Homo sapiens: one gene and its partners. The protein of the gene in region 4 interacts with the protein of the main gene of each other region in a pairwise test. Each region holds a gene or a part of one and is shown on either strand. Other genes may lie near its edges.

What was found.
Region 1: the proteins of CEP70 (region 4) and ZNF410 interact in binary tests that used the Homo sapiens proteins (3 or more experiments, as listed by UniProt).
Region 2: the proteins of CEP70 (region 4) and ITPKB interact in binary tests that used the Homo sapiens proteins (3 or more experiments, as listed by UniProt).
Region 3: the proteins of CEP70 (region 4) and NOP53 interact in binary tests that used the Homo sapiens proteins (3 or more experiments, as listed by UniProt).
Region 5: the proteins of CEP70 (region 4) and SLU7 interact in binary tests that used the Homo sapiens proteins (3 or more experiments, as listed by UniProt).
Region 6: the proteins of CEP70 (region 4) and COIL interact in binary tests that used the Homo sapiens proteins (3 or more experiments, as listed by UniProt).
Region 7: the proteins of CEP70 (region 4) and FAM161A interact in binary tests that used the Homo sapiens proteins (3 or more experiments, as listed by UniProt).

Annotation. Positions count from the first base shown.
Region 1 is NC_000014.9:73,920,816-73,925,141, reverse strand, and holds part of ZNF410 (zinc finger protein 410), read right to left. Parts: intron 4,163-4,326; coding exon 4,037-4,162; intron 3,077-4,036; coding exon 2,936-3,076; intron 2,444-2,935; exon of another isoform or gene 2,406-2,443; intron 1,748-2,405; coding exon 1,620-1,747; intron 441-1,619; coding exon of another isoform or gene 339-440; exon of another isoform or gene 323-338; intron 1-322. UniProt on the Homo sapiens protein: Transcription factor that binds to the sequence motif 5'-CATCCCATAATA-3', and is specifically required to silence expression of fetal hemoglobin in adult erythroid cells.
Region 2 is NC_000001.11:226,645,102-226,649,427, reverse strand, and holds part of ITPKB (inositol-trisphosphate 3-kinase B), read left to right. Parts: intron 1-656; coding exon 657-756; intron 757-2,047; coding exon 2,048-2,261; intron 2,262-4,326. UniProt on the Homo sapiens protein: Catalyzes the phosphorylation of 1D-myo-inositol 1,4,5-trisphosphate (InsP3) into 1D-myo-inositol 1,3,4,5-tetrakisphosphate and participates to the regulation of calcium homeostasis.
Region 3 is NC_000019.10:47,747,732-47,752,057, reverse strand, and holds part of NOP53 (ribosome biogenesis protein NOP53), read right to left. Parts: intron 1,881-4,326; coding exon 1,772-1,880; intron 1,151-1,771; coding exon 951-1,150; intron 539-950; coding exon 468-538; intron 1-467. UniProt on the Homo sapiens protein: Nucleolar protein which is involved in the integration of the 5S RNP into the ribosomal large subunit during ribosome biogenesis. In ribosome biogenesis, may also play a role in rRNA transcription.
Region 4 is NC_000003.12:138,584,082-138,588,407, forward strand, and holds part of CEP70 (centrosomal protein of 70 kDa), read right to left. Parts: intron 1-4,326.
Region 5 is NC_000005.10:160,405,135-160,409,460, forward strand, and holds part of SLU7 (pre-mRNA-splicing factor SLU7), read right to left. Parts: intron 3,564-4,326; coding exon 3,516-3,563; intron 3,327-3,515; coding exon 3,195-3,326; intron 2,935-3,194; coding exon 2,837-2,934; intron 2,680-2,836; coding exon 2,612-2,679; intron 2,482-2,611; coding exon 2,342-2,481; intron 1,496-2,341; coding exon 1,334-1,495; intron 2-1,333; coding exon 1-1. UniProt on the Homo sapiens protein: Required for pre-mRNA splicing as component of the spliceosome. Participates in the second catalytic step of pre-mRNA splicing, when the free hydroxyl group of exon I attacks the 3'-splice site to generate spliced mRNA and the excised lariat intron.
Region 6 is NC_000017.11:56,953,973-56,958,298, forward strand, and holds part of COIL (coilin), read right to left. Parts: intron 1-4,326. UniProt on the Homo sapiens protein: Component of nuclear coiled bodies, also known as Cajal bodies or CBs, which are involved in the modification and assembly of nucleoplasmic snRNPs.
Region 7 is NC_000002.12:61,826,926-61,830,607, forward strand, and holds part of FAM161A (protein FAM161A), read right to left. Parts: intron 334-3,682; coding exon 179-333; intron 1-178. UniProt on the Homo sapiens protein: Involved in ciliogenesis.

The DNA of each region.
Region 1 (4,326 bases), on a different chromosome or scaffold from region 4:
AAGAAAAGTCCTGGCAAAAGCATTAACATGTATGCCCAGAACCCTGTAATCCTGGGTACCCCCAAAGATATTAGAGAATAATGGAGAATATTCAATATAGGATGCAGAGTCATTTGAATGATGCAACAGCTTACTGTGGTATAAAGGTTATAATGAAAAGAAGAAGGCTGGGTGCAGTGGCTCACGCCTGTAATTCCAGCACTTTGGGAGGCTGAGGTGGGCAGATCACGAGGTCAAGAGATCGAGACCATCCTGGCCAACATGGTGAAACCCTGTCTCTACTAAAAATACAAAAAAATTAGCTGGGCGTGGTGGCACGCACCTGTAGTAGCAGCTACTCAGGAGGCTGAGGCAGGAGAATCGCTTGAACCTGGGAGGCAGAGGTTGCAGTGAGCCGAGAACGCACCACTGCACTCCAGCCTGGGCAACGGAGCGAGACTCTGTCTCAAAAAAAAAAAGAAAAGAAAAGAGGAGAAAAGACGGAAGAGCACCATAAAAACTAATGTAATACTGAAAGGATCCAAGCTACAGAGGTTTTGACAAAAGTTTATGCATATGAAATGTGCTCGTGATGAAGTCATCCACTCCCATGACACAAGACCAGTGAAATATCCCAAGATTTTAAAACACTGACCACTTTGCATTCTGTTTCCTGAGTCAAAGCCAAACTACAGAGTTGAAAGTGCTTTAGCTCAACCTCAAACCCTTTTTGTTTAGATCAGAAGTCACCAACCCCCAGGCCATGGACCAGCACTGGTCCGTGCCCTGTTAGGAACCAGGCCACACAGCAGGAGGTGAGCAGCAGGTGAGCAAGCATTACCACCTGAGCTCCACCTCTCCTGTCAGATCAGCAGCAGCAACAGATTCTCATAGGAGCGCAAACCCTATTGTGAACTGTGTATTTGAGGGATCTAGGTTGCGCACTCCTTATCAGAATCTAATGCCTGATGACCTGAGGTGAAACGAAACCGGTCCCTGGTGCCAAAAAGGCTGGAGACCATTGATTTAGGTAATGGTTCTCACTTAGCAAGCAAGTGAACAAATCTGTATATGCCCATTTGGTTAAGCCTGGTATCTCCCAGACATATGACCATAGCAGAATGAACAATAATTATGTTTAATGATTTTGTTACTACCTTTTTTGCTGAGGGACTTTTTCCAGGATGTTATTTCTGGAGAAAAGAAAGGGATCTCTAGGAAATACTTGCTCCTGTCTGGTACAGAAATTTCACCCAATTTACACAGGCCAGGCCCTCTTCTCTGAATAACTTAACAGGTGAGGTCAACATGCATTTATTCAGTGCCTGCTGTGTGCTTTTATAAAATAAAAGCTGTATCATGTTATAGTGTGGCAGAGAATAGTGGGAACAGACATCAACAAGGAATGTATATAAAAGAACTTTAAAGCCGGGAGTCCCAGCTGTGACAGACCAATCTCCAATTCATTAAGACCCTAACCCTCAGGCTCCTTTCAAGCTGAACTCATGCTTAATTTAAAGGAAAATATTCGTGCCAAAGTTTCCAGGAAATGGAAACTGGAGACTTTTTCAGGTCCTCTAAATTCTCAATCATTCCCCACATGAATTGTCACAGAAACAAAGGGCAAGAGACCACTTTACCTCTTGTGGATTTACTGCAGTTAAGACAGAAACTTCATATGATTGCCTCCCTGACTGCATGGTCACCAGGTGATGTGTCACATCAGGCACTGAAGACAGGGAACGTGGGGATCCTTCAGCAAGCACCTCTGTGAAGCAACAGAAAAATGTTTCAATGAAAAGTGAATCCAGAGATACACCTATCTGGATCATTAAGCCTCTCATTAACAACTCTAAAACTCTATTCCTCTATTTCCCACATTCCTCTATTTCTTCCAAGTTAATCCTGTCTGATAAGCATTATCAGTGAATTTGGAAAGTAATATAAAAAGAGAATAGAAAGGCAAGAAATCTTAATACAGGATTTAGAATAATATGGTGTTAGCACTTTTAACTGAATTAAAACTATGTATGAAACAGGCAAAAGTCTTAGGCAAGCAGGTAAGGGAACCAAAGCCACCCTTAAAAGCAGTCGCCAATGATACTAATAGCACTTACTAACTGAATATGATATGAGTAACAAAAACATAGGGTCTCACAGTTACTAAATGTTCATCAGTGGGATCACCATGAAAATCTTCTGGAAATAGTTTATGGATATACCACTTAGCCCTCAAAAAACTAGAAGTTTCTTCTAGGGGTTTTCTAGATTATACAACTATTTTATGCTGTACCATATAATTTAATGTTGGCTTATATACTATCTTTTATGTACTCAATGTTCTTTCCCATATATATGTAAGCTTTCACTTCTCAACTGGATTTTAAGGTCCCTATCTTCTACTTTTGTCTTTCCCATGGTGCCAGGCACACAGTAGGCACTGAATAAATGCATGCTGACCTCACCTGTTAAGTTTTTCAGAGAAGAGGGCCTGGCCTGTGTAACTTGGGTGAAATTTCTATACCAGAGAGGAGCAAGTGTTTCCTAGAGAGCCCTTTCTTTTCTCCAGAAGATATGGCTTTTGAAGGTATGGAGAAATTGCTTTATATCTCCTCTGTAAAACCTGGTTATGTTCTGTTTAAATGTTCTAAAAGTTAAGTTCTTCCATAACTGCAATAGGAAAGATAGAAATAGTTGGGCTAGGATGCTAGGATTAGGAATAATTTTTTCTTAAGAATTTTTTCTTTTTATTCTTTTATTATATTATCTTCAATGAAAAAAAATTTTTTTTTAAACAGATTGACTAATCCACCCCAGAGAATAAGAACACAAATGCTACTCATACCACAGCTACTCATAAGAAATGAGATTTAAACATACATTGTGGAGACACCCCATTCCTTAGCCCCTAGTTGCAGCCCATTTTTCCCAAATAAAGGAGAGTTGGAAGTCTTACCATCATCAACTCCCAGGATAGAATTGGTATTTGGTAGGTTCAAGGACTCTCCACCAAGGCTGGGCTGGGAATTCATAGACACCAGGTTTTTACTGGGTACTGAAGCCTCTTCAAGCAAACTACTGCCCATTAGTGGCTCAGCTGCACAGAGAATAGGTTGTGAGAGACATACAGCAATCAAGGCTGTGCCTGGTCCTCATTTTCTTTCAACAGAAGCTGGCCTTCTCTTTCATTACTAGAAGTTAACCTATAGATGGGATGCCACCCCCTATTTCACCTACTTTCGAGAAACAAGAATAAACCTAGAAGGGAAAGAGTAAGCCTTAGAAGATAATGATCCTTGCTTGTGTTCAGCGTCTGAAGAATTAGCATATGAAACAGGATAGGTGGATCTTTAGAAAGGAATATTTGGAATAATTAAGGAAAGATATGGCGAAGGAATAAGAATTAAAAAGAGTTATCAAATTTCAGGCAGGGCAAAAAGGTAGTCATGACTGGTAAATAAAATATGCTTCCAGCCTGGCCAACATGGTGAAACCCCGTCTCTACAAAAATATAAAAATCAGCCAGGTGTGGTGGCACCTGCCTATAATCCCAGCTACTCAAGAGGCTGAGGCAGGAAAACTGCTTGAACCCAGGAGGCAGAGGTTGCAGTGAGTCGAGATGGCGCCACTGCACTCCAGCCTGGGTGACAAAGCAAGACTCCATCTAAAAAAATTAAAAAGCTTAAACTCTTCCCATGTGGAAATCTTTTATCACTGTGTTACTCAAATGCTTGTTCATGGATCAGCACTAGTTACCATCAAACTCACTAGGGAAACTTTTAAAACTACAGATTCTAGGATCTTGCAAATTATCTCATTTATCAGATTGCTTTGTTTTATTGGTGGGCGGACAAGCAACAAAAAGTATATAAATTTTAAAAGGTTGCAGATGATTCTACTGTATAGCTATGTTTGGAAACCATCAGCCCATCAAATGAGACCAGGTCTATCTACCCAAAACAGAATCAGAAAATTTCCAGATAAGCAGGCAGGACAGTGATTTGGCTCTTGGAACCCTAGAAGTAGTACAGCGTTCCACTATGCCCACCCTCCTCACCAGTTTGCTCCTGCTCTTGACTCCCAGCTGCTCCCAGCTGCAGGTGATGCTTTCTCATATGCACATTCCTGCTTCCACTCTGAGAGAAGGTCTTCCCACAGACTTGGCACTGATGAGGCTTCTCTCCTGAAACAGGGACCAGGTTAAACAAGGAAGCCAAAAGGACAGGAAGAGAATGAACTCAAGACCTAGATGGAGAAACCCAGAGAATGTTAAACTGAACATAAGCAGCTGCTCCTTTTCCCATTCCGCACCTTCCCAGCCTCTCAAACTTCAGTATATGGGGGAAG
Region 2 (4,326 bases), on a different chromosome or scaffold from region 4:
CACTCATGCACATATCACACATGCACACACACTCATGCACACATGCACACAATCACATGCACACATGCACATATATCACATATGCACACATACGCACACACTCATGCACACATATGCACACACACATGCACACACACGCACACACACATGCACACTCCCAGTCCTGGCTGTTTTCACTGAAGAAACATCCTGAGAGGGCGGAGCGCGGTGCAGAGGAGAGAGCTGTGGGCTTGCTCCCTCCTGTGTGACCTGAAGCCATCGGTGCAGGTTCTGTTCTGAGGAATTTCTTTAAAGTCTCTCTTCAAACCACTCGCAGGCAAGAGGTGCCTCTGGTGCCTCCGCATCTACGAATTGAATATGAACTAATGTGGTGCGGCTGGGTGGTTGTGTCCTCTCCAGCCTTCCTTGGAGGGGTCGTTGCTCTTGGGACAGGGGAGTTCCCCTGAGCATTTTGCTCAGGCTGTTTGTTAAATGGGGTAAAGCCACCTCCCACCATGTGCCGCATAGGTGATGGTGGTGGCAAGGTCCTCAGAGCCCGTCAAGGGCCCTTCCCATCTTGTGGCCACAGGCAATGAGGGCCTTTGCTTTGAATTTGTCCTAACCAGAAATTAGTGGTTGTCTTTCTAATGTAGAGCTTTTTGTTTGTTTGTTTCTAGAGCAAATCATGGAGGAAGATAAAAAACATGGTGCACTGGTCTCCCTTCGTCATGTCCTTCAAGAAGAAGTACCCCTGGATCCAGCTGGCAGGACACGCAGGTAGACACAGCTCTCCCAGACTTTCCCAGCATGGTGCTCAGCCCTCTGGGGAGGTGCCCTGGACGCTGCATTCTGGGGATCAAAGCTCCAGAGCAAGTTCCCTCCAAGACTTTCTAGTCTGAAATCACAGCCACACTTGCAGGCTGCGGCCTTACCAATGCCTTGTAAATGCCATAGACAACGGACCTCTCTGGAGTCTGTGTTACCCCATCCTCCAAAACATGCATCCTCCCCTCCCTCGGTCTCTGGCTCTTATCTCTGTCTCTTCCAGTCTCTTTCTTTCTGTCTCTCTTCCCGTTGTATTCAATAAGACAGATGAAGCCATCAGTCTTTATAGCTTACCTGCCATTTGTCACCCTGGACAAAGAGGCAAAGCTAACCCCTTCATTGAGCACCTACTGTGTGCCTAAATTGCCATGGTCCTGGGGGTTGCGGCATTAATGGAGATGTAGTTTCTGCCCTGAGGGAGCCTGCAGCTGGTGGAAGATGCGGCCAAGCCACCCCATAACTGCAGGGCGGTGTGCGGTGTTGGGAGGAAGGTGGCTAGGAGCTGAGTCCAGGCAGTGCCGGGGAGAAGGGACATCTGGAGCCGAGGCCCCAGAGCCATCTAGCCCACATGTAGGACCCTCTGGAAGCACTGTCATCTGGAGACATGTCAGGGGCTGCCTGTGGACTTGGCCTTCGTGACTTCACCAGCCTCCTCAGGCCAGCACAAGGTCCCGCATTTCGCTTACCTCGTTGGCCACACTGGCCCAACTCAAGGCACATGGATGGACAGCCTGTGTGAATACTTACTTGGTCTGGCTCAGAAGAAGTGCCACCCAGGTGGGCTGAGCCTTAGGCCCCCCAGCTTCTCAGCCTGCTGTATCTCCCCACCTTGGCTCTGAATCCTGTCCAATCAGGGTTTCTCTACTGAGGCCAGGAGACACCTTCGTTGCCGAGAAGCAGGGCTGATGATGGAGGTGAGGATGAAAATAGCAACACTAAGGAATGACTGGGTCGTGGCACCTCAGTCTCTCACCTAGCTCTGTACCCTTCCAGCAGGGAACACTGGTGAGGAGGAGTCTGGAGTCAAGGAAGCTGGGGAACCAGCTCAGAATTACAGTTAGTGAGTGGGGACTAGGTCTTGAACCCACTCCCCTTAAGGTGCTCAGTCCATAGCAGGGACATAGACACACCTTCAGCCCCAGGCTTAGCCATCCCCAGGGAGGCCCAGACCCTGTGCTGGGGAGGGTGCCTCTGCCAGCTACCTGCAGCCGGAGACCAGGAACCTTCTACACTTGCTCTCCAGGGAGTTTCAAGGCAGCTGCCAATGGCAGGATCCTGAAGAAGCACTGTGAGTCAGAGCAGCGCTGCCTGGACCGGCTGATGGTGGATGTGCTGAGGCCCTTCGTACCTGCCTACCATGGGGATGTGGTGAAGGACGGGGAGCGCTACAACCAGATGGACGACCTGCTGGCCGACTTCGACTCGCCCTGTGTGATGGACTGCAAGATGGGAATCAGGTGAGCCAGGCTTCTCGCAGCCCACATGCCTGCCTCAGTGCAAGCCACATGGCAGGTGCACAGCGTGGCACTCAGGGCTTCCCGGAGGCCTCACAGGTGCAAGGGCAGGCTGAGGAGGCTGTTGGACCAATTAGAGCCTCCCCATCCCCAGGCATCTCCCATTATTTGCAGAGGGTTCCGGGACCTGGGCTTTGCCCATGATGGCCCCTTTCCTTCTCCAGTGAGCAGAAGCCAGGGGCTGGCGGAACCAGAAAAAGGGCACCGGCTGGGTTCTGAGGCCCCCTAGAGAGAAGGAAGAGAGAGCTGCCCTTGGTTCAGGTGGGATCGCTGGGGGTGCGGGGAGCCACCAGGTAGGGAGGTCGCAGGATGGTGACTTCCTGCTGTGTGAGCTGCAGGGGAGATGGGAATCGAGGTCTTTCCATTTCCCCAGCCCTGGTGAGTGGGAAGAGAGAGTGGCTAGTAGAACATGCTGGTTTCCCAAAAAAGACCTGTATCTGCCTAAAAGGAGGAGGAAGCCCCTGACGGAACTCAAGAAACCCACATGGCAGGTCACCGCAGGGCCCCAGGTGAGCCCGGAGCAGTCACTGGGCCTGTGTGCAGGACTGGCTCCCACCCCCAGGTTCCTGACAGGGGCTCAGGCTCACCCTGACACCTGCCCAGGGGATAAGCCTGGAGAGGACTCCAGGGAAGAGGAGAGAGGAAGAGGGGGCTTGAGGAGGCAGGGCAGAGAGCAGACAGGGATGCCTGAGGCCGGCTGCTGTGATCTCGGGGCTCAGTTTTAGGCAGCCGGGTTTTCTCATTACCTCTCAAACTGCTGCCCTTCCACCCTGAGTCATCCACAGCACGGCTCCTTCTCCCCTGTGCAGGCTTGGTGAACCTCCCTAAGGCTGTCGGCCCCCATGGTGTCCAGCGTGCGGTGCTCATGTTGTGGGGCTGGCCCTCACTGCAGCACCCGGGCTGGACGGCCAGATGCCAAGCCCCCCCATGCTTCCTTGCAGGGCTGTCTGGGAGGCCAGGCACGGAGACTCAGAGCTCAGAGCAGAAGGCTGTGTCCACTGTGACTGGTTTAACCGGATTATTTCTCATAAGAGCAGATTGAGAAAGAGGGGTGTGTGTGTGAGAGAGAGAGAGACAGAGACAGAGGCCAGGAGAGAAGAGAGCTAAGCCAGCCAGCATTTCTTTCCTTCTTTCCTTTCTTCTCTCTCCTCCTGGGAGTTCTGTCCTAAAATCACACCCTGCCACTGACTGTTGTGTTCTCTCGCCATCACTCACAGGGAAAGAATGGGGGATGGAGAAGCACAGGCCCCACTGTTTGCTCTTGAGCCATCCCTGGCCACCTCCCTCCCACCATCCAAGTTCCTTACTATCTTTAGCCCACAGGGACCTGGGATAGGGCAGGGAGGAGAAAGAACATGCCCCCAGCCAGCCCGAGGCCTTTGCTTTTCCCGAGTCTGATTTCTGACCCAGGATGGCATCCACTGGTGCACCAGAATGTGTCCTCTCAGGGGAGGCCCAGCCCTTCCTTCCAACCCAGACAGCAGCAGGACTTCGCAGGTGACCACATGGAGAATAATCCAAGTGGTGTCCACTCAGACCTGGCCAAAAAAGTACGGCCTGTGTGAAGAACACTGGCTGGGCATTTCTGGAAGTCGGCTGTCCCAAAGACACAGCCAGCCAAGCACAGGGCCAGGCTGCCCCAGAACCTGCCTGCTCCTGCTGGGGACAGGAGCCCCGCTTCCTGCCCCAGGGCTGCCCCCACCCAGCCGCTTGACTTCCGCAGCTTCTCTCTGATTGCACCCTAGTGCTCTCAAGAGAGATCTAGAGTGACCGTGGCTGGTACCCATGTAACCCATCTTGGCAGGCAGAGGGAAGAGGATGAGAGAGGAGTATGTGTGGAGGGGAAGAGGAAGGTCTCCCCAGAAGCAGGGTGCACCCAGCCCGATCTTTCCTGCACACAAATCCTAAGGACCCTTCTTGTTCCAAGGGCTATGCTAGATGCTTCCATTATTTATCCCATTGCGTTCTCACCGCCATTCTGGGAGATGGGTCATGTTCCAGTGTAAGC
Region 3 (4,326 bases), on a different chromosome or scaffold from region 4:
TCGGCTCACTGCCACCTCCACCTCCCTGGTCCAAGCGATTCTCCTGCCTCAGCCTCCCTAATAGCTGGGACTACAGGCACGTGCCACCAAGCCCAGCTAATTTTTTTTTTGTATTTTTAGTAGAGACAGGGTTTCACCACGTTGGTCAGGCTGGTCTCAAACTCCCGACCTCAGGTGATCCACCTGTCTCGGCCTCCCGAAGTGCTGGGATTACAGGCGTGAGCCACCATGCCCGGCCCTCATCTGCATTTTAGAGGAAGATATAGGTTGCAGAAAGGTGAGACCACCTTCCCAGGATCAGTCAGCACTGGAGCTGGGACAGGAATCCCAGCCACCTGGCTCCAGCACAGAGTTCTCGGCCACTGGGATGGAAGGGCTCTGAGACAGACTCTACTGCAGGAACACAGAGCAGCTCCCGGCCCTCCTCACCCTCCCATCACCCAGGATGCCCTTCCCACACATCTCACCTTCACTCCTTTCTTCTTGGTCTGCTCCAGGAAAAACTCATCCTGGCCAACCAACGGCCTGTCCAGGGGGTCTGTGGATACAGCGAGGGGAGCTGCTGGGACAGTCCCAGCATGGAAGAGGCACCAAAGGCTCCCCCCCAATCCCTCCACATTTCAAAAAGGTGACCCTGAAGCTCAGGCAAGGGAAGGACTGATTCTAGACCCCAAGGGCCTTGATCACCAGGACAAAACTGTGTCTGGACGGGTTCAGAAAGTGGAAGAGACCAAAGCTGAAGGCTTCCTTTCCTGAAGCCTCACAACTCAGGAAAGGAAAAGCACGAGTGGGAAACGGCCGCCCCTTCAGGACGCACGACTCTGCTGGGAGGTCACCAAAGCACCCACAAAGCACTCCCTTTCACACTGTACTCTCGTGCAGTGCACAACACACACAAACTGCACATGGCCGTCCTGTCCCCATTCATAGGTGACAGCAGGATCACTCACTGTCTGAGGCCCAGAGGTCGTAGAAGGGCCGCTCTACGGTGTCCTGGGGCCCGGGCTTGGCCCTTGTTGCAGAAGGGTTGAGGAGCCGGGCCTGGGCCCTGCGCACCTCCCGGGGCAGCTCGCCCTGCTTGGCCAGCTTCTCCCATAGCTGCTCCTTCCGCCTGAGCTTCTTGGCGTTGGGGACCTGGTGGGCGAGGACGCTGGTCGGGGAGAGGGGGCACAAGTGCAGCAGGTGAGGTGGCAGCCTGAACGGCAGCAGGGCCTCCTCCCCGTCGGGCTTCCTCCACCATTAAGGCAGCTTCAGCACCCCCTCTCCAAAAGGTGGCACTCCGCCCCCTCTTCAGAGAACTCCTCTCCCCACGTCTGTCTCCAGCCTAGGCCTCCCCTCTGAGCCCCAGACTCAACGAAGCAACAGCCCCGTCCTGGACATACCCCAGGCACCTCACACCACCACGTCAAAACCAACCTCAGCATCACCCGAAATCCCACTCCTCCACATCCCCATCTCAGGGGAAGGCCAGCTGTCCACCCTCTCACCCGCTCATGCCCCAAGACCCACCTGATGTGCCTCCTGAACACGCCTCCCACTCAGCCCCTCCTCTCCAACCCCGAAGCCCCCAGCTGGGTCCAGGCCCCTCCTCACCTGCCTCGGCCCAGCACCAGGGCACCCAGACTCCCTCCCTCTAATCTGCACTCCGAAGCCCAAACCTGAGCCTGCCCTACCCTTCAAATGACCCTCACCTACCAGCCCCCAGCCCCGGAAACCCTTTAGGACCAGAGTCTGGTGGGAAAGAAGGGCCCAGGGATGCTGGGACACTCACTCTTTGGGGGCAGGGACTTTGGATGTGTTCTCGAGGATGAGGTCAACCCGAAGGGGTTTCTTGAGAAGCAGTGACTTCTTCTGGACTTTGGTTCTCTTCTTTGTCAGCCCTAAGAATGGGAAAGAGAACAAGTCAAGGCCTCAGCCCTACCCACTGCCAAAGACCACCCACCCTATTCACCTCCATGGGAGCCATCAGACCTGAATCCCAAGTCACCCCAGGAGACTTGGAGGTCCCCAGGCTCCTACCTGGAGGTAGAGGCCCCTAAGGATGGGGCCCAAGGTGCCCAAGCTCTGACCCTCCACAACCAAGTGCTGGGCCAGCAGGAGGCAGGCCCCATGCTGGGGACACGAAGAGTCACGCCCACAGCCACATAGGAGGGTCTTCCAGACAAACAGGGAACCTCTTCCCTGCATGGTGGCTCACGCCTGTAATCCCAGCACTCTGGGAGGCTGAGGTGGGAGGATCGCTTGAGCCCAGGAGTTTGATGCCAGCCTGAGCAACATAGTGAGATCTCATCTCAGGGGGAAAAAAAAAAGGAAGAAAGCAAGTCATCAGTTGACACTGAAGCCCAGGGAGGGCCACAGAAGTGGACTTGGGACCCAGGATGGCCACTTCTCAGCATAACTTCTAGTTCTCTGGTTTTTACTGTCTTTTTCCTCCCACAAAGATACCTGTGGTTTTTACTTCAAAAGCCTAACAGTTAAAAGCAGTAACTCTACAGCAAAACACTCTAGAATGGAATAACACCCTTGCATGGACTGTGGGACCTCACACAAGAGGCTTAGCTCCTCCGTGCCCCCAAAATGAGGATGTGGATACCTCCCTCACTAGGCCGTTATGAAGATGTAATCATTTAAGGCCCACAAAGCACAGGGGCTGACCTGGTTGACTGCTCACAACCACTATGATCTTTGTCCGTGTTTCCTTACTAAAGTGGAACCCATAAACTGCCTCTTTCCTGCCCCCCAAAGAGGCTTCCCACTCGCCAAAGCACGCCGGTAACTACTTTCCCATCTGTTCATTACGGGCAGGTCACTGACTTACCCTTTACACTCACACACCAGATCAACTCACTTCGGTCAAGGCTGACTTCTCTAATAACCCCCCACTTTTTTTTTTTTTTGAGACAGAGTCTTGTAACCCAGGCTGGAGCGGAGTGCAATGATGCGCTCTTGGCTCACTGCAACCTCTGCCTCCCAGGTTCAAGCAACAATCCTGCCTCAGCCTCCTGAGTAGCTGGAATTACAGGCATGCGCCACCACGCTCGGCTAATTTTGTACTCTTAGTAAAGACGGGGTTTCTCCATGTTGGTCAGGCTGGTCTCAAACTCCCGACCTCAGGTGATCCACCCGCATCAGCCTCCCAAAGTGCTGGGATTACAGGCGTGAGCCACCACGCCCAGCTTGAGACAGAGTCTTGCTCTGTCGCCCAGGCTGGAGTGCAGTGGTATGATCTTGGCTCACTGCAACCTCTGCCTCCCGGGTTCAAGCGCTTCTCAGTAGCTGGGATTACATGCGTGTACCATGACGTCCGGCTAGTTTTTGTATTTTTAGTAGAGACGGGGTTTCGCCATGCTGCCCAGGCTGGTCTCCAACCCCTGACCTCAAGTGATCCGCCCCACCTCGGCCTCCCAAAGCGCTGGGCTTACAGGTGTAGGCCACTGCACCCAGACTCTAATAACCACTTTTTACCTGCCTATTGGAAGTCTCCTGTACCTCAGGGCAGCTCCTTCCACTCTATCTGGTCACTGAACCAGGTCCGCTCATTTTCATTAAAACATACCCTTTGACTGATCTCACACAAGCTCACTCTCTTGCTCATTAAAGCAGACCCCTTCGCTTGCTTCCAGGCTGTTCATTAGAGCAGATCATCTGTTCTTAGTTTGTTTTTCTACATATTGAAGTAAACACTATTACTCACCAGAGCAATCCCTCCCTCACGCCTCATCTTGTTTCAGCAGATCCCCACCCTACATTCTAGCAACTTAAGGCAAGCAAGTTAAGACGTGTGTTACCCGCTCACTAAAGCAAGTCCTCTTATTCCTATTAAAGCTCATCTTGGCCAGGCGCAGCGGCTCACGCCTATAACCCCAGCACTTTGGGAGGCCAAGGCGGGTGGATCACCTGAGGTCAGGAGTTTGAGACCAGCCTAGCTGACATGATGAAGACCCATCTCTACTAAAAATACAGAAATTAGCCAGGCTTGACCAGGCGTGGTGGCTCATGCCTGTAATCCCAGCACTTTGGGAGGCCGAGGCGGGCGGATCACCTGAGGTCAGGAGTTCGAGACCAGCCTGACCAACATAGAGAAACCCCATCTCTACTAAAAATACAAAATTAGCCGGGCATGGTGGCACATGCCTGTAACCCCAGCTACTCAGGAGGCTGAGGCAGGAGAATCGCTTGAACCTGGGAGGTGGAGGTTGCGGTGAGCTGAGATCACGCCATTGCACTCCAGCCTGGGCTTGAAACTCCATCTCAAAAAAAAAAAAAAAAAAAAAAAAAGAGAGAGAGAAAAGAAAAGAAATTAGCCAGGCTTGATGGTGCAGCCTG
Region 4 (4,326 bases):
GGAGACATTACAACCAATACTGCAGAAATACAAAGGATCATTAGAGCCTACTAGGAGCAACTATATACCAATAAACTAGAAAATCTAGAAGAAATGGATAAATTCCTAGACACAAACAACCTACTAAGATTGAACCATAAAGAAATCCAAAACCTGAACAGACCAATAACAACTAACAACATTGAAGCTATAATAAAAAGTCCTCCAGCAAAGAAAAGCCTCGGACTCCATGGCTTCACTGCTGAATTCTACCAAACATTTAAAGAATTAACACCAACCCTACTCAAACTATTCTGAAGAATGGAAGAGGAGGGAATACATCCAAACTCATTCTATGAGGCCAGTATTACCCTGATACCAAAACCAGACAAAGACATATCAAAAAAAAAAAAAAAAAAGAGAGAGAGAGAGAAAAACCTACAGGCCAATATCCCTGATTAATATTGATGCAAAAATCTTCAACAAAATACTAGCAAACCAAATTCAACAACACATTAAAAAGATCATTCATCATCAACAAGTGGGATTTATCCCAGGGATGAAAGGATGATTCAACATATGCAAATCAATCAATGTGATACATCATTATCAACAGACTGAAAGACAAAAACCATATGATCGTTTCAACTGATACTGAAAAAGCACTTGATAAAATTCAACATTCCTTCATGATTTAAAAAAAAAACCCTAAAAAAACTAGGTATAAAAGGAACATACCTCCACATAATAAAAGCCATGTATGACAGACCCACAGGCAGTATCACACTGAATCGGGAAAAACTGAAAGCCTTTCCTCTAAGATCTAGAACAGAACAAGGATAAAAAATTGACAAACCTTTAGCCAGACTATGAAGGAAGAAAGGAAAAAAGATTCAAATAAAATCAGAGATGAAAAAGGACTGGAATTGCTGTAGTTAGGACTAGAATTGCTCTAGCTAGAGATGAAAAAGGACTGGAATTGCTCTAGCTAGCAGTTAGACATGAGAAAGGAAAAAAAGGCCATCAAAATTTGAAATCAAATTATCCTTGTTTGCAGGTGACATGATCTTATATTTGGAAAAACCTGAAGACTCCACCAAAAAGCTATTTGAACTGGTAAACAAATTCAGTAAAGCTGCAAGACACAAAATCAGCTTAGAAAAATCAGTAGCATTTCTATAAACCAACAAGGACAATCTGAAAAAGAAATCAAAACAGTAATCCCATTTACAATAGCCACAAAGAAAATTAAACACCTAGGAATTAACTGAACCAATGAAGTAAAACATCTCTACAATGAAAATTATAAAATACTGATGACAGAAATTGAAGAGGCCACAAAAAAATGAAAAGATATTCCATGTTCATAGATTGAAACAATCAATATTGTTAAAATATCTATATTACTCAAAGCAATCTACAGATTCAATGCAAATGCCTAGCAAAATACCAATGACATTCTTCACAGAAATAGACAAAATAATCCTAAAATTTAAAGCACAAAAGACCCAGAATAGCCAAAGCTATCCTGAGCAAAAAGAATAAAACTGGAGGAATCACATTAACTGACTTCAAATTATATTGCAGAGCTATATTAACTAAAACAGCATACTACTGCCACCAAAACAGACACATAGACCAATGGAACAGAACAGAAAACCCAGAAACAAATCCACATACTGACAGTGAACTCATTATTGACAAAGGTGCCAAGAACATACATTGGGGAAAGAAAAGTCTCTTCAATGAATGGTGCTGGGATATCCATATGCAGAAGAATGGAACTAGACCCCTATCTCTCACCATATACAAAAATCAAATAAAAATGAATCAAGACTTAAATCTAAGCCCTCAAACTATGAAAGTACTACAAAAAAATTGGGGAAACTCTCCAGGACATTGGATTGGGCAAAGATTTCTTGAGTAATATACCACAAGCACAGGCAACCAAAGCAAAAATAGACAGGTGGGGTCACATTGAGTTAAAAAGCTTCTGCACGGCAAAGGAAACAACAAAGTGAAGAGACAACCCACAGAATGGGAGAAAATATTTGTAAACTACCCATCTGACGAGGGTTAATAGCCAGGATGTATAAGGATCTGAAACAACTTTTTTTTTTTGAGTCTCACTCTGTCGCCCAGGCTGGAGTGCAGTGGCACAATCTCGGCTCACTGCAACCTCTGCCTCCCAGGTTCAAGCGATTCTCCTGCCTCAGCCTCCTGAGTAGCTGGGATTATAGGCACATGCCACCACACTGGCCAATTTTTTATATTTTTGGTAGGAAATCAGCATATTAAAGAGATATCTGCACTCTCATGTTTACTGCAGCATTATTCACAAAAGCCAAGATTTGGAAGCAACCCAAGTGTCCACTGACAGACAAATGGATAAAGAAAATCTGGTACATATACATAATGGAGTACTACTCAGCCATAAAAAAAGAATGAGCTCCTGTCATTTGCAACAACATGGATGGAACTGGAAGTCATTATTTTAAGTGAAATAAGCCAGGCACAGAAAGACAAACATCACATGTTCTCATTTATTTGTGGGATCCAAAAATCAAAACAATTGAACTCATGGAGACACAGAGTAGAAGGATGGTTACCAAAGGCTGGGAAGAGTAACAGGTGGGCTGAAAGGAAGAGGGGATGGTCAATGGGTACAAAAAAATAGAAAAAAAGAATAAGATCTAATATTTGCTAGCACAATGGGTTGACTATATTCAATAATAATATAATTGCACACTTTTAAGTAACTAAAAGAGAATAATTGGATTGTTTCTAACACAAAGGATAAATGCTTAAGATGGTGGCTACCTCATTTACCCTGATATGATTATTATATATTATATGGTGTATCAAAATATCCCATGTAACCCATAAACATACACATCTGTGCACCCATGAAATTAAAAAAATTTTAAATTGTAAAAGTTCATATTAAAAAAAATCTCTACAGACAAGAAAAATATACTAGAAAGACGTGCTCACAAAACAGATAGGAACTATAACCTCTATATTAAAACAAACTAAAATACATGTAAAACTCTGTAAGACATAAACAACATAATTAGAAATAAAACTTGGAAATGAGCTGATAGAATCTAGAAATTAGTAACTTTTAAAAACTAATTATTTCTGAAATGAAGATTAAAGAAGGAAAATGAATGAGTAAAGACTACAGACAATGCCTTAAGAGAAATAGAGATTAAAAGGAAAACAATTTTAAAAAATTAAAAAGAAATGAAGAAGAAATATGAAAATGACAAAGATAGGCAAAGAAGCTCAAACATACACATAATAGTGGTAATTGAAAAAGAAAACTAAAACAACAGAACCAATTAAAAAAACTATAATTCAGGAAACTTTCCTGATTTTAAAATTCATACAGAGCTGCAAAAGATCTATAAAAGACAAAACAACTTTGAAAAAGAACAGGCTGGCCATGGTGGCTCACACCTGTAATCCCAGCACTCTGGGAGGCTGAGGCAGGAGGACAGCTTGAGGCCCAGGAATTCAAGACCAGACTGGGCAACATAGCAAGACCCCATCTCTACAAAAAAAAGATTAGCCAGGCATTGTGGCATGAACCTGTAGTCCTCGCTACTTAGGTGGCTGAGGTGGGAAGACAACTTGAACCCAGGAGTTTAATCAGTGAGCTATGATTGTGCCACTGCACTCTAGGCTGGGTGACAAAGCAAGACCCTATCTCTAAATTAATAAATGAATGAATGAAAAAGAAGAACAAAGTTGAAGGACTAATACTATATCATTTCAAGGTTTATAAAGCTATAGTAATCAAGACAATATAGCATTGATATCAAGATAGACAAACAGATTAATGAAACTAAATAGATTCCAGAAACAGACTCATACATATATGGACAACTAATTTTCACCAAAGATACGAAGGTAATTTAGCAGGAAAAACGATAGTTTTTTTTTTTCAATAAATGATGCTAGAACAATGGGATGCCCATGTACAAAAAAAAGAGAAAGAAACAGGACTTTCAGCCATATCTCACACCATATACAAAAAAATTAAAATGAATGACATAAATCTAAAACTTAAAATCACAACATGTCTAGAAAAACACAGAAAAACTGTATGGCCTTGAGTTAGGCAAACATGTCTATGATATGACACCAAAAGCATGATACAATTCAAGAACAAATGGGGCTTCATAAAAATAATGTCTGCTCTTTAAAATATAACATTCTGAGAATGAAAAGAGAAACCACATACTCAGAGAAAATAGTCAGGAATCAGAAAAGGTTCATATCCAGAATATATAGGGAACTCTCAAAACTTAGTAAGGAAGTTAACATCAACAAGAAGTAAAC
Region 5 (4,326 bases), on a different chromosome or scaffold from region 4:
GCTGCAGAGAGAGAAATTAAAAAGCTTAAAAAGGAAGCTGAAATTAGAAACTTCTGTATACTGTTGATAAGAGTATAAAATAATACAGCCCATTAAAGGTAATTTGGGAGAAAAATTATGGGGATTCAAGGCTGGCTAACAGGGAGAAGGTAGTCTGACCTGAAGTGTGAGAAGCAGGACCTGTAGTTACAAAACTCTTAAATTCTATTCCCAAAAGCCTATTAAAAAATTTAGGGTATCTGACTTCTCTTGAAAAACGTAGGAGTGGGAAATTCTGGGCCTATATAACCACTTGGCAATAATCAGCTGTTGCTGAACAGTGGATGCCCCATTAGATAGGGCTTGTGTTCTCCAGTTTGTACAATTTGCCTGGCTCACTTCACTCATGTATGATCACTGGTCTGGCTCCTATAGGGAGTTAGGTTTTTGACCCTCAACTAAGAGAGACAATTGTAGTTTGGTTACTTCAAGAGAACAGCAAAGGACAATATATGCTTTATGATGTTTACAATGCAATATGAATATACTACATTACTTATTAAATATTCTTGTCAAAATATTTAACTTATATCCAATCAAGCCGTTAGACCTAAATTCCTATTTATAAAACATACAGGGATAGAGAAACAAGTTATATAACACTACTAGGAACCAGTCAATACAGAATATGAGACAATTTACAAACTAATTGGCCTAATCTGTTAAATGGTCACCGTCATGAAAATGAAGAGATACACTCTAGAAAAGAGACATAATAACCGCATAACGATCAAAAGAAATTTGAAACGAATTCTGACTAAAACAAAAAATAGGTGTTAAAGGCATTTTTCTGTATATTTTGGAAAATGTGATTAATGACTAGATATTAGGTGATATAATGTTAATTTTCTGAAGTGCAATAATGTCGATGTGGTTATATAGAAGAAAATCCTCATTTTAAGGAGATATGTGATACAGCGTTTATGGATAAAATGTCATGATATACATAATTTCCAAATGTTTCAGTCAAATAAATATATACATAAACTATATGTGTGTATATATGTGTATTTTACATATATATGTAAAACTGTGCATATGCACACATACAACTAGACAAAGCATATAAGGCAATATGTTAAAAATTTCAGAATTTAGATGATGGGTATATAGATGAACATAGTATTCCTTCAAAATTTTTCTATTTTTGAAAAAATTCCATGAAACAGTTAAAATTTTTTTTTTTTTTTAAAGCATAGAGAATACAAATGGTTAGCTAATAAAGTTGTAGTGGAAAAATGCAATACAGAGCAAAACCAACAAGGACACAAAATTGTTCCAGTTTAGCACATACTGTGTGATTGTGGATCTTCACATCCTCCTCATACTTAGAGCAGGCAACAGCCCGCTCCTGTCCTTTGATGACTGTCCCATGTCTTGAGTACTCCACATAGTCTTCAGTCTGGGCTAAAAGCAATTCAGCTGGAGGGGCATCCAAATGTTCTTGGCCACCATACTAAAAGGACATTGGACATTATTCAATACATTTTACAACCTGATTTGCATTTAAATTTCCAGAAAACATTTATTTCTAATCAGAAAGAAAGGGAACATTCTTTACTGGGTTTTGTTATAGAAAGCACAGTAGGAAAAAAAAAGCCACAAATTTTTTCTGAGGCAAATAGAAGATGTCTCAGTTGCTATTCATCTGTTGAGTACAGTAAGTTACAAGATGGCCATAAATTCCTCTTATCTTTCTATACATGCCCTTTTGCCACAGGGCTTTGCTTTTCTTCCCATCAAGAGACGAAGTCTTTCTCTGTCCCTTGAATCTGGGCCTGACCATGTTATTTGCTTTGACCAATGAAAGTTGGCAAATGTGATGCAAGCAAAGGCACTTATGTACCACAGCACACTTTTTGCTGCCACTCTCTAGAACTCTGAGAATGCCATTTTAAAAAGCTGTGCTACCCTACTAGAGGATGAAAGACCACATGGGGTGGAGATGAGCTGTCCCAGAAGAGGTCCCCTTAGGACAATTAGCCTGTTAACTGCTAAACACAAGAGTGAGGCCATCTTAGTTCATCATCTAACCTCAGCTGAGCAAGCCCAGACCAGGAGACTTGGCCAACTGTGAGAAACAATAAATGTTTATTTTAAGCTATTAAGATTTGAGGTAGCTTGTTTTGCTGCAAAAGCTCATACAAAATTACCATCTGACTAAGAGAAAGGAAGAAAAGGACTATTCTTCATGGATTAAGAGGGCTCTCTTTGCATTATTTTCCAAATGTAAAACTAACGCTTATTAACTAGTAACTTCTCTTTAACAGAAGTTCTTCTTTAGCATTTTGGTCAAAATTACCTTTTCCAGGATGCTTTCTTTCTGCTGTTCTTTGAAATCTTCTTTTTTGACTTTGAAGGACTTATACAACAGCTCTAGCTTTGTAGGATCTGCCTGTAGATGCACTTCAGATCCCTTGTCATAGGCTTCCCATGCAAACACTAGAGTAATTCAAAACATCTTAGTGAGTTGGCAGCTGCATTACTGTATGCTTCTTGAAAACAAGCTTTAAACAATCCCAAACGTCTTATGAGCTGATATAAAATGGCTTGACATAGAGGAAACACTTACACTGTGTCTGAGCCATTGAAATGGTATCTCCTGTGTACCTAACAAAGTTATCTCCAGCATAACTCACTCTGTAAATACAAATAAAGAAAATGTTTCAGAGATTGATTTAAGGAAAATTAATTCGTAAAACTGAATCTGAATTAAAATGAACACCATCTATGGTCAGGTCAGAAAACAATTAACTTTCTCTCATCTTAAAATCTGTACATTTAACTTGATACTTACTCATCTGGATTCTTTCCTGCATTGGCATAAGGATTCTCTCTCATTGCTCTAGTTTTTGGATCATAGTAGGCAGAATTTGGATCTAAATTCCTCAAATACTAGAAGAAAAAAATATTTAAAGAATTAATGTTTACTCACAGCAAAAAGATTTCAGCAGACTAGTTGGAGGAGTTGAACATGATCAATTAAATAAATGTGTGTATACATTTCTGGGGTTCAGGTGAAGAGAAAAAACAGAATGAAACCTTATCTTAGAATGACTCTGACTATATTATCCATATGCTACCCAGAGTCGATAAAATTTATGCTGGGAAGACAAGTATTTTTCAAATATGTATGTTAAGCTGACAAGACTTACTTTTGCAATATCTTCTCGAATCCTGAGATTCCGGACAGTAATTCGTCTCTTGGAGTCAAAATTCTGTCCAGGCATGTCAATATCATCTGCATATTTATCTTCATCCTCATCTTCACTATTATGATCTTTTTCCTAAAAGAGGGAGAGGAAGGAAAAGTAAGAAGAAAAGAAAGCAGCATGTAGTTCTTTTTTTTCCCCTTTCCCTTTAACCAAACCCTTATTTACTTGTGTTCTTTAAAAGCTATTATTAGTGTTATTTATTATTAGCCATCAGAAATTTAAAAATTTAACATATACTCAGAGACAGCAAATATGTATTACCATCTGAGAATTTGGTTCCTCTTCTCCCCACTGGTGTTTTGGAGAATTCTGCATCATGAAAGAAGAAAAATCATTCATAATCTCATTCCACTTAATCCAATTAACTTTATTATTAAGATAATAAAGTATTATTATCTTATTATAAATAATATATTTATATAATAAAATATATTTTATTATATATTATATTTATATTATATATAATAAATATTTATTATATAATATATAATATGTAACTTATAAATAAGTATTAAGATAATAAAACTTAATTCTAACTGAACAAACTCTCACACTTCTCAGTTATAATGAGCGCAAAAATTCTGAATACAAGAGTGCCATTGTAAATAATTTTATTACACTGTCTATAAAGCCAGCAAATTTCAAGAGAATTTTAATTAAGATTATAACCACAAAATGGTAACAGAAAGATTAAGATGTCCAAAGTACCCAATAAATATTAATTTCTAAATGTGTTAGTCTTCAGACATACTGTATTCATTAAACGTTACTAGTTTCCTAGTAAGTCCAAAAAGAAAATATTACTGGGTTCATGTCTTCACAGCCAAAGTGAAGTTTGGGCAATGAAAAAAATCTACAAGTGACACAGTATTGTAATTTAAGGAGAGGCCAAACTCCTTGTCACAAGGATACACTTTTCTTCGCTAGCAATTGGTCAGAATACTTTCTAACTCCACAGAATGCCTACACTAACGTGGTATTTCATCATGTCCCTTCATAAAGGCTTCAAAGATTAAAAATACTTAAAAAAAAAGAGAATACATTATAGCATTAGTGAGGAGATGCAGAAACA
Region 6 (4,326 bases), on a different chromosome or scaffold from region 4:
AGAACTACCATGGAAGCGCTACAATATCAGATTTTTTTCTTGACATTTCTGATCAATTTGTTTTCACTTGTAGCAATGATCCAAGCTTCAATTCTGAGATGACCAAATAGGACCAAACTTTCTGTCAAATGTTGAAAATGGTTGCAAGTCTCTGTTCAGTCACTGTGGTTTATTAAGGCCCTGGAAAACAGCACATGTAACATCCAGTTGATGAGAACCCCTTCCTTTCCTGGAAGCTGGCAACACCCTCACGCCTTCCAAAACAGCTCTTAGCATCGTCTCATCCATTCTTAAGACCATGCATTGGCCGGGCGCGGTGGCTCATGCCTGTAATAATCTCAGCACTTTGGGAGGCTGAGGTGGGCAGATCACAAGGTCAAGAGATCGAGACCAGCCTGGCCAACATGGTGAAACCCAGTCTCTACTAAAAATACAAAAATTAGCTGGGCATGGTGGCATGCGCCTGTAGTCCCAGCTACTCGGGAAGCTGAGGCAGAAGAATCGCTTGAACCCAGGAGGCAGAGGGTGCAGTAAGCCAAGATCACGCCACCGCACTCCAGCCTGGCGACAGATAGAGACTCTGTCTCCAAAAAATAAAAAAAAAAAGACCATGCATCTACAGCTATTTGGCTTGAAGGTATGACCTGTGATTCCTGCAGCCCCACTACCTACTGTTCCCCAAGAGAATAATTTCAGTTTTTAAAATATTAAGATTATAAACTGGTGTGGTGGCACATGCCTGTAATCCCAGCTACTCAGGAGGCAGAGGGAAGATCACTTGAACCCAGGAGTTCAAAACTAGCCTGGGCAACACAGTGAGCCCTCATCTGGGAAGAAAAAAAAAAAGAAAATATTAAGATTGAGAGGCAAAATACCATCCAGAGAAAAAGAAATGGTTCTCCTGGGTCTGCTTAGTTACCATTCCTGTCAGGTGCACCTTCCCTGGCAATATTCTCTATTTCTTTACCTGGATCACAGACAAAGAATAGAGCTATCCTTTTACAAACAAAAGTGCATGCATTTGTCCTTTCACAAGTAGAAGTGAATTACCTAGGTCACTAGTGACGAAAGAGTTGATTCCAAAAAACAGATCCCCACTTTTCTTTTTTCGAGATGGAATTTTGCTCTGTCGCCCAGGCTGGACTGCAGTGGCATGATCTGGGCTCTCTGCAACCTCCTCCCCTTGGGTTCAAGCGATTCTCCTGCCTCAGCCTCCCAAGTAGCTGGGATTCCAGGTGCCTGCCACCACGCCTGGCTAACTTTTTGTATTTTTAGTAGAGATGGGGTTTTGCCACGTTGGTCAGGCTGGTCTCGAACTGACCTCAGCTGATTCGCCCGCCTCGGCCTCCCAAAAGTGTTAGCATTACAGGCGTGAGCCACCATGCCCAGCTATCCCCACTTTTCATTCTAACTCTTTGCAAGGCAAACTGAGTGGTATTATCAAAATCTAAGTCCACCCTTAAAATCTACAATTTACTGTCTAGGATTCTGTTATGCAGAAACACTGACATGCCCATCTGTCCAACCTGATGCTCCCTACCCATTGCCTGCCAAGGCCAACGTGAATGCCTGGGTTCAAATGCTATTTCTGCCACTGTAATTTTTTTTAAAATCATTACCTCAGCCTTTCTCATCTATAAAAATGGGGATAATGACAATAATTACAGTACTCAGTGACTTATTATGCAGAGAGAGCATGCCTGACTCAGAACAAGTGATATCCAAATGTTAGCTCTAATTTTTATTAGTACAATGAATGTTGTTAGTCCTATCATGGGTAAGTTGGTGAATTTTTAAAAGTTGTACAAGTCTGTACAACTTTTCTGGAAGCTAATTTGACAGTACTTATCAATTTTTATATGTACCTTCTCTTAGACCAATGAGTATTTCTTCTAAGAATAAATCCAACTGAATAATTTTCCAAGTACAAAAAAAATACAAGAATATTCACTAAAGCACTATGTAGCAAACAGAAAAGAATGACATACATCACACACTTTATATACTGAGATAGCCCATGATAGGTAAAAAAGCAAGGTGCAGAACAGTATGTTATGATATTTGTAGTTTAAAAGTATAAGTACATATGGTTGCACATGTATAGAAATCTGGCTCTAAGATATACCCCATACCCCAAACTTAACCAAGGATACTTCTGGAGAGTGAGGTGTGGGAAAAAGTATATGATAAAAGTAGTAGGAAACTTTTTATCTTGGACTATCCAAGGAGCCACTAACTACAGCAATATGAAATGAGAACTCGTCTCTAATATTTTGTTTTGTTTGAGATGCGGTCTTGCTCTGCTGCCCAGTCTGGAGTGGAGTGACACGATCATGGCTCACTGCAGCCTCAACTTCTGAGGCTCAAGTGATCCTCTCACCTAAGCCTCCCAACTAGCTGGGACTACAGGCATCCATCACTGAGCCTAGCTAATTTTTTTTGTTTGTTTTTTGGGGTTTTTTTGGTAGAATAAGGGTCTCCCTGTGTTGCCCAGGCTGCTCACAAACTCCTGGACTCAAGTGATCCTCCCACCTCGGCCTCCCAAAGTGTTGGTATCACAGGCATAAGCCAACATGCCTGGCCCATCTCTAACATTTAATCAATGTGTTTTTTTGTTCGTTTGTTTGTTTGTTTTTTGAGGTAGGGTCTCACTCTGTCGCCCAGGCTGCAGCGCAGTGGCACCATCTCAACTCACCGAAGCCTTTACTTCCCAGGCTTAAATGATCCTCCCACCTCAGCCCCTCAAGCAGCTGGGACTACAGGCATGTGCCACCATGCCCAGCTAATTTTGTTGTATTTTTCTGTAGACATGGGGTTTCACCATGTTGTCGAGGCTGGTCTCGAACTCCTGAGCTCAGGCAATCTGCCTGCCTCAGCCTCCCAAAGTGCTGGATTATAGGCATGAGACATGGCGCCCAGCCTTCATCAAGTATTAATTGCCAGAGTTAAAAGGGTCAGGGAAGACAGAATGCACTGTTTCCTTACAGAATTGATTCTTCAAAAGGGAGTTTCTCAGGCCGGGGGCAGTGGCTCAGGCTTGTAGTCCCAACACTTTGGGAGGCCAAGGCGGGAGGACTACTTGAGCCCAGGAGTTTGAGACCAGCCTGGGCAACTTAGTGAGACCTCTCTACTAAAAATAAAAAACTGCACCTGTAGTCCCAGCTACTCAAAAGGCTGAGGCAGGAGGAGCCCTTGAGCTCAGGAGTTCGAGGCTGTATAAGCCAAGGTTGCGCCACTGCACTCCAGCCTGGGCAATGGAGTGAGACCCTGTCTCAAAAAATAAGGGAGTCTCTCTGAATCTACTGTAATTCTGAGGGCTGCACGATTAAAAAAAATTTAAAAATTAATTAAAAAAAATTAAAAACCGCCAGACACAGTTGCTCACTCCTGTAATCCCAGCACTTTGGGAAGCTGAGGAGGGCAAATCACTTGAGGTCACAAGTTCGAGACCAGCCTGGCCAACATGGTGAAACCCCATCTCTACTAAAAATACAAAAAAATTAGCCTGGCATGGTGGCGGGTGCCTGTAATCCTAGCTACTCGGGAGGCTGAGGCAGGAGAATCGCTTGAACCTGGGAGGCAGATGTTGCAGTGAGCCAAGATCGTGCCACTGCACTCCAGCCTGGGCAACAGAGTGAGACTCTGTCTCAAGAAAAATAAATAAATTAATTAATTAATTAAAATAAAATAAAAAAACCAAATCTGCCAACACCCTGATCTTGGACTTGTAGTCTCCAGAAGAGTAAGAAATAAATTTCCATTTTTTAAGCCATACAGTCTGTGGTATTTTGTTATAGCAGCCCCAGCAAACTAACACAGGGGGCTCCAAGCCAATAGAAGCACCTCCTCCTCCTCCCAGGACAGTTAGAGACCACCTTTAGGAACTCGCTGTCAGAAACCTGGGGGCAGATGAAGCCAGATTCCTGGGGCTTAAGAGAATGGGCTATGAGGAAACAGCAGTGGAACACAAGTGTGTGGTGCATCCAAAGCCTCAAAGGCTGTTTCTCAGGATTCCCACAACCTAGTTCCACTTTTCCTCATTAGCCTTCTCAGTACTGCCAATGATCCCAACAGAATGCTTTGGCTGGTCAGACTCATCTTTTTACCAAGTCCAGCCAGCTTTTGTCTCTATAACTGTGCTTTGATCATCCAACATTTCCCACCCATTCTTCAAGGTACTGCTCAATTCCCTAACCATTTTGTTCCATGCTGATCTCCCTTTTCTCAACCAGCTTCTGCACTTACCATATAACTTGGTCTAACTATTCAGTCTAATTGTCTGTATCACAGAAGGTAATATACAAAAGCATGAGACTCATTATTTGG
Region 7 (3,682 bases), on a different chromosome or scaffold from region 4:
GTGTCAAACATGTTAAAATATCAGTGTGTTTTACAACAGTTCATATGTCTTTTACTATTGGGTAAAAGATCTTTTTAAAACAATATAGAACAAAAAATATACATAGTATAAAATTGTGCTTTTCTGCAGGTAATAATTTTTTCAAAGGTAAGCCATTCAGACATCTTATATATGTTACCTTTCTTTGTCTTCAGTGACACTTTTCGTCTCTTGATTGTTGAAGTACTCAAGTACTTTTCCACTTTGGCCTTTCTTTGAAACAAACTCATCAGATATTCCTAGTGCTTTTAGGGTATTAGAATAATGCTTTTCTGCTGCCATTCTTGCATTTTTCTATAGGAAAGACAAACCTTTTTAGACGAGAACAGAAGACTTTAAATTTTCATCAAAAATGTATAGATTAGGCCAGGCGCGGTGGCTCACGCCTGTAATCCCAGTGCTTTGGGAGGCCGAGACGGGTGGATCACGAGGTCAGGAGATCAAGACCATCCTGGCTAACACGGTGAAACCCCGTCTCTACTAAAAATACAAAAAATTAGCCGGGCGTGGTGGTGGCCGCCTGTAGTCCCAGCTACTCGGGAGGCTGAGGCAGGAGAATGGCGTGAACCTGGGAGGCGGAGCTTGCAGTGAGCCGAGATCGCGCCACTGTACTCCAGCCTGGGTGACAGAACAAGACTCTGTCTCAAAAAAAAAAAAAAAAAAAATATGGATTAAAAGTACTGGTGATAATTAAGTTCAGCAGTCACAGTTGTTTGAAAATCTGCATACCCTATGACCAACAATTACACTCCTAGGAATATAACCAGAGAAGCTCCCACATATGAGTCCCAAGGGAGGACATGTTCAAGAATGTTCAGGATAGTACTGTCCTTCAATAACCCCAAATGGGAAATCACCCAAATATCTATTAGTAGCAGAATGGATAAATAAATTGTGGTCTATTCCTATAATGGAGTGAAACAAAGCAAGGAAAATGAATGAACTACAGTTACATGCCACAACATGGATAGATCTCACAAATATAATACTGAGCAAAAGAAGCAAAGCACTGACAAGTACATATTGTATGATCTATATAAAGTTCAGAAATGGGCAAAACAACTATATTGTTTGAGGATAGGTACACACACTGTAAAATTGCAAAGAAAAACAAGGAAGTACTTATCCTGAAAGTTAGAATGGTGGTTACCTCTTGGGGAGAGGTAGAGGGCTGTGATCTGCAATGGCACATAGGGTTTTTGGGGTGCTGGCAATGGTCTATTTGTTAACATGGGTGGTGGCCACATTAGATTGATCTATAATTATTTTTTATATTGTACCTAGGTTTTATATACTTTTATGACTGTATAAAGATATCTGAAAAAAAAAAAAAGATTTCATGCAATAATTGTTGTCAGAGGATTCTTTTTCCTTTTTTTTTTGAAAAAGGGTCTTGCTCTGTCACCCAGGCTGGAGTGCAGTGGTGCAAACACAACTCACTGCAGCCTCAACCTGCTGGGCTCAAGCGATCCTCCCACCTCAGCCTCTGGAGTAGCTGGGACCATAGGCGCGTGCCACCATGCCCAGCTAATTTTTGTATTTTTTGTAGGACGGGGCGTCACTATGTTGTCCAGGATGGCCTTGAATTCCTGGGTTTAAGTGATCCACCGGCCTTGGCCTCCCAAAGTGCTGGGATTACAGGCATGAGCCATGGCACCCAGCCAATTTCTTTTATTTTATGTATCTACTGTAATTTTTACTCTTTATAAGCCATATCCCCAATCCATTAAAGATGATAAAAGCACCAGTGTTGTAATCTTTACTCTGTGGAGGAAGCAAGGGATATAACAAAAAGAATATGAATTTAGAACTGGGTTCAAATCTGTAGAATGTCACTTCCCGGCTTTAAGATCTGTTGGAATTGTGATGACCCTCTCATCACAGCTCCAGAGATGGCAGGCTTTATGGAGCCACATAGTGACTGGGTTCACACTAGTGCCTCCACTTTAGCCCATTTTAGCTCCCATGAGTGGATCTGAACTGTTAGAGGGCCAAGAATTGCCCTCTGGACCTCCAACTAAAGCTAAGACCTCCAAGTAAAGCAAGCATTCCTAATACTAGGAATGGCCCAGTTCCAATGTACCAATGGCATTCATACTGGGAAGGGTGTGGAGGAGTACCCAGTCTAACCCCCATATTTAATAAAGAAACCAAGTCTCCCCCGGCCCCCGCCTCAAAGGTGAAATTGACTAAGGTCACAAGGCTAGTGAGTGGTAGAACCAAGTCTCTTGACCATTTCCTAGGTCTTTTATATTACATCATGCTACTTTCTCTAAGTGGTAGTGGTCGTCAAGAGTTTGAAGGTGACCTAAAGCCTGACTTGAGCAACGTAGTTGTCAGATATTTGCCAAATCTAGTATAATGAGGGGCCATGGAGTCTAGTGTTACACAGGAGAACCTGAAATAGCAAGGACTGATTACAATAGATAAAACTATCACCAGGGCATTTCCTGATACTCTGGAAAACTGAAAAAGAAACACTGCTGCTAAAACGCACTCACTGTGAATAACAATAATATTTTTTAGAAAAGTAAGTAAAAACCCATCCAGAGTCTGTGAATATCAAAAGACAAGTCTTGGGGAGCTGAAAGGAAGGGCAAAATGAGAAATAAGAACTATACCCTAAAGACTGCAGAGAAGAATAAAGAAACCCCAAACCTAGCTCTGAATGCATTACCAACAGTATATTCTGACTTCAGCAAATTAAATATATAAGACATTAAAAAGACATTAGTCAAAATTTGTGCCAGTAAGCCTTCATCTGACTTTGGTTTAAAATTCAATTTAACATCTTCTCAGTTAATTAATCCTGTGATTTCCAAGAAACAGGACAACATAGTTTATTCTGTAAAGAATCACAGGCATATTGTGTTAGGGAATCACTCAGCAGCAGCGAGACCACAATTAACTCCTATAAATGGGCAAAGCAAATAGCTGCAAGCAAATTTATTAAAAACCAGCTGTTAATTAGCAGCAATAGTTCCAGCAAAATAGACTGCAGCAAAAAATGTACTAAAAAAAAAAAGCAATGGCGATTCACTGCCATGGTAACTCTGTTTATACTTTTTGAGAAGTTAATGAGAAGACCCCTTGATATCATTCATTGAAAATGAGAATAAATGGAATTGGTGAGAATGGATGATTGTCCCTGTTATAAAGGCTTATTAATTGTCTACCCAGGGTTAACATTTTAGTAGGGGAATGAAAATGGTAAGGCGAAGGTATAATGAATGGTTCTGCAAAGAGCAAGGCAGAAAAATCAATCAAACTATTATGATTCAGATAGGAAATAAAGGTTCCACCTGGCATTTCACCACCAAGGATGGTGAAGGGCAGATCCAAAAATTATTTAGGAAGAAAATTTGACAGGTCTCTCAATGACCAGCTGAATGGGGAGGAACTGGGTACACACAGATATGAAGATGAGAACAGTAGGCCAGGCACGGTGGCTCACTCCTGTAATCCCAGTACTTTGGGAGGCCGAGGCAGGTGGATCACTTGAGGTCAGGAGTTCAGGACCAGCCCGGCCAACATGGTGAAATCCCGTCTCTACTAAAAATACAAAAAAAATTAGCCGGGCATGGTGGTGTGCACCTGTAATCCCAGCTACTCAGGAGACTGAGGCAGGAGAATCACTTGAACC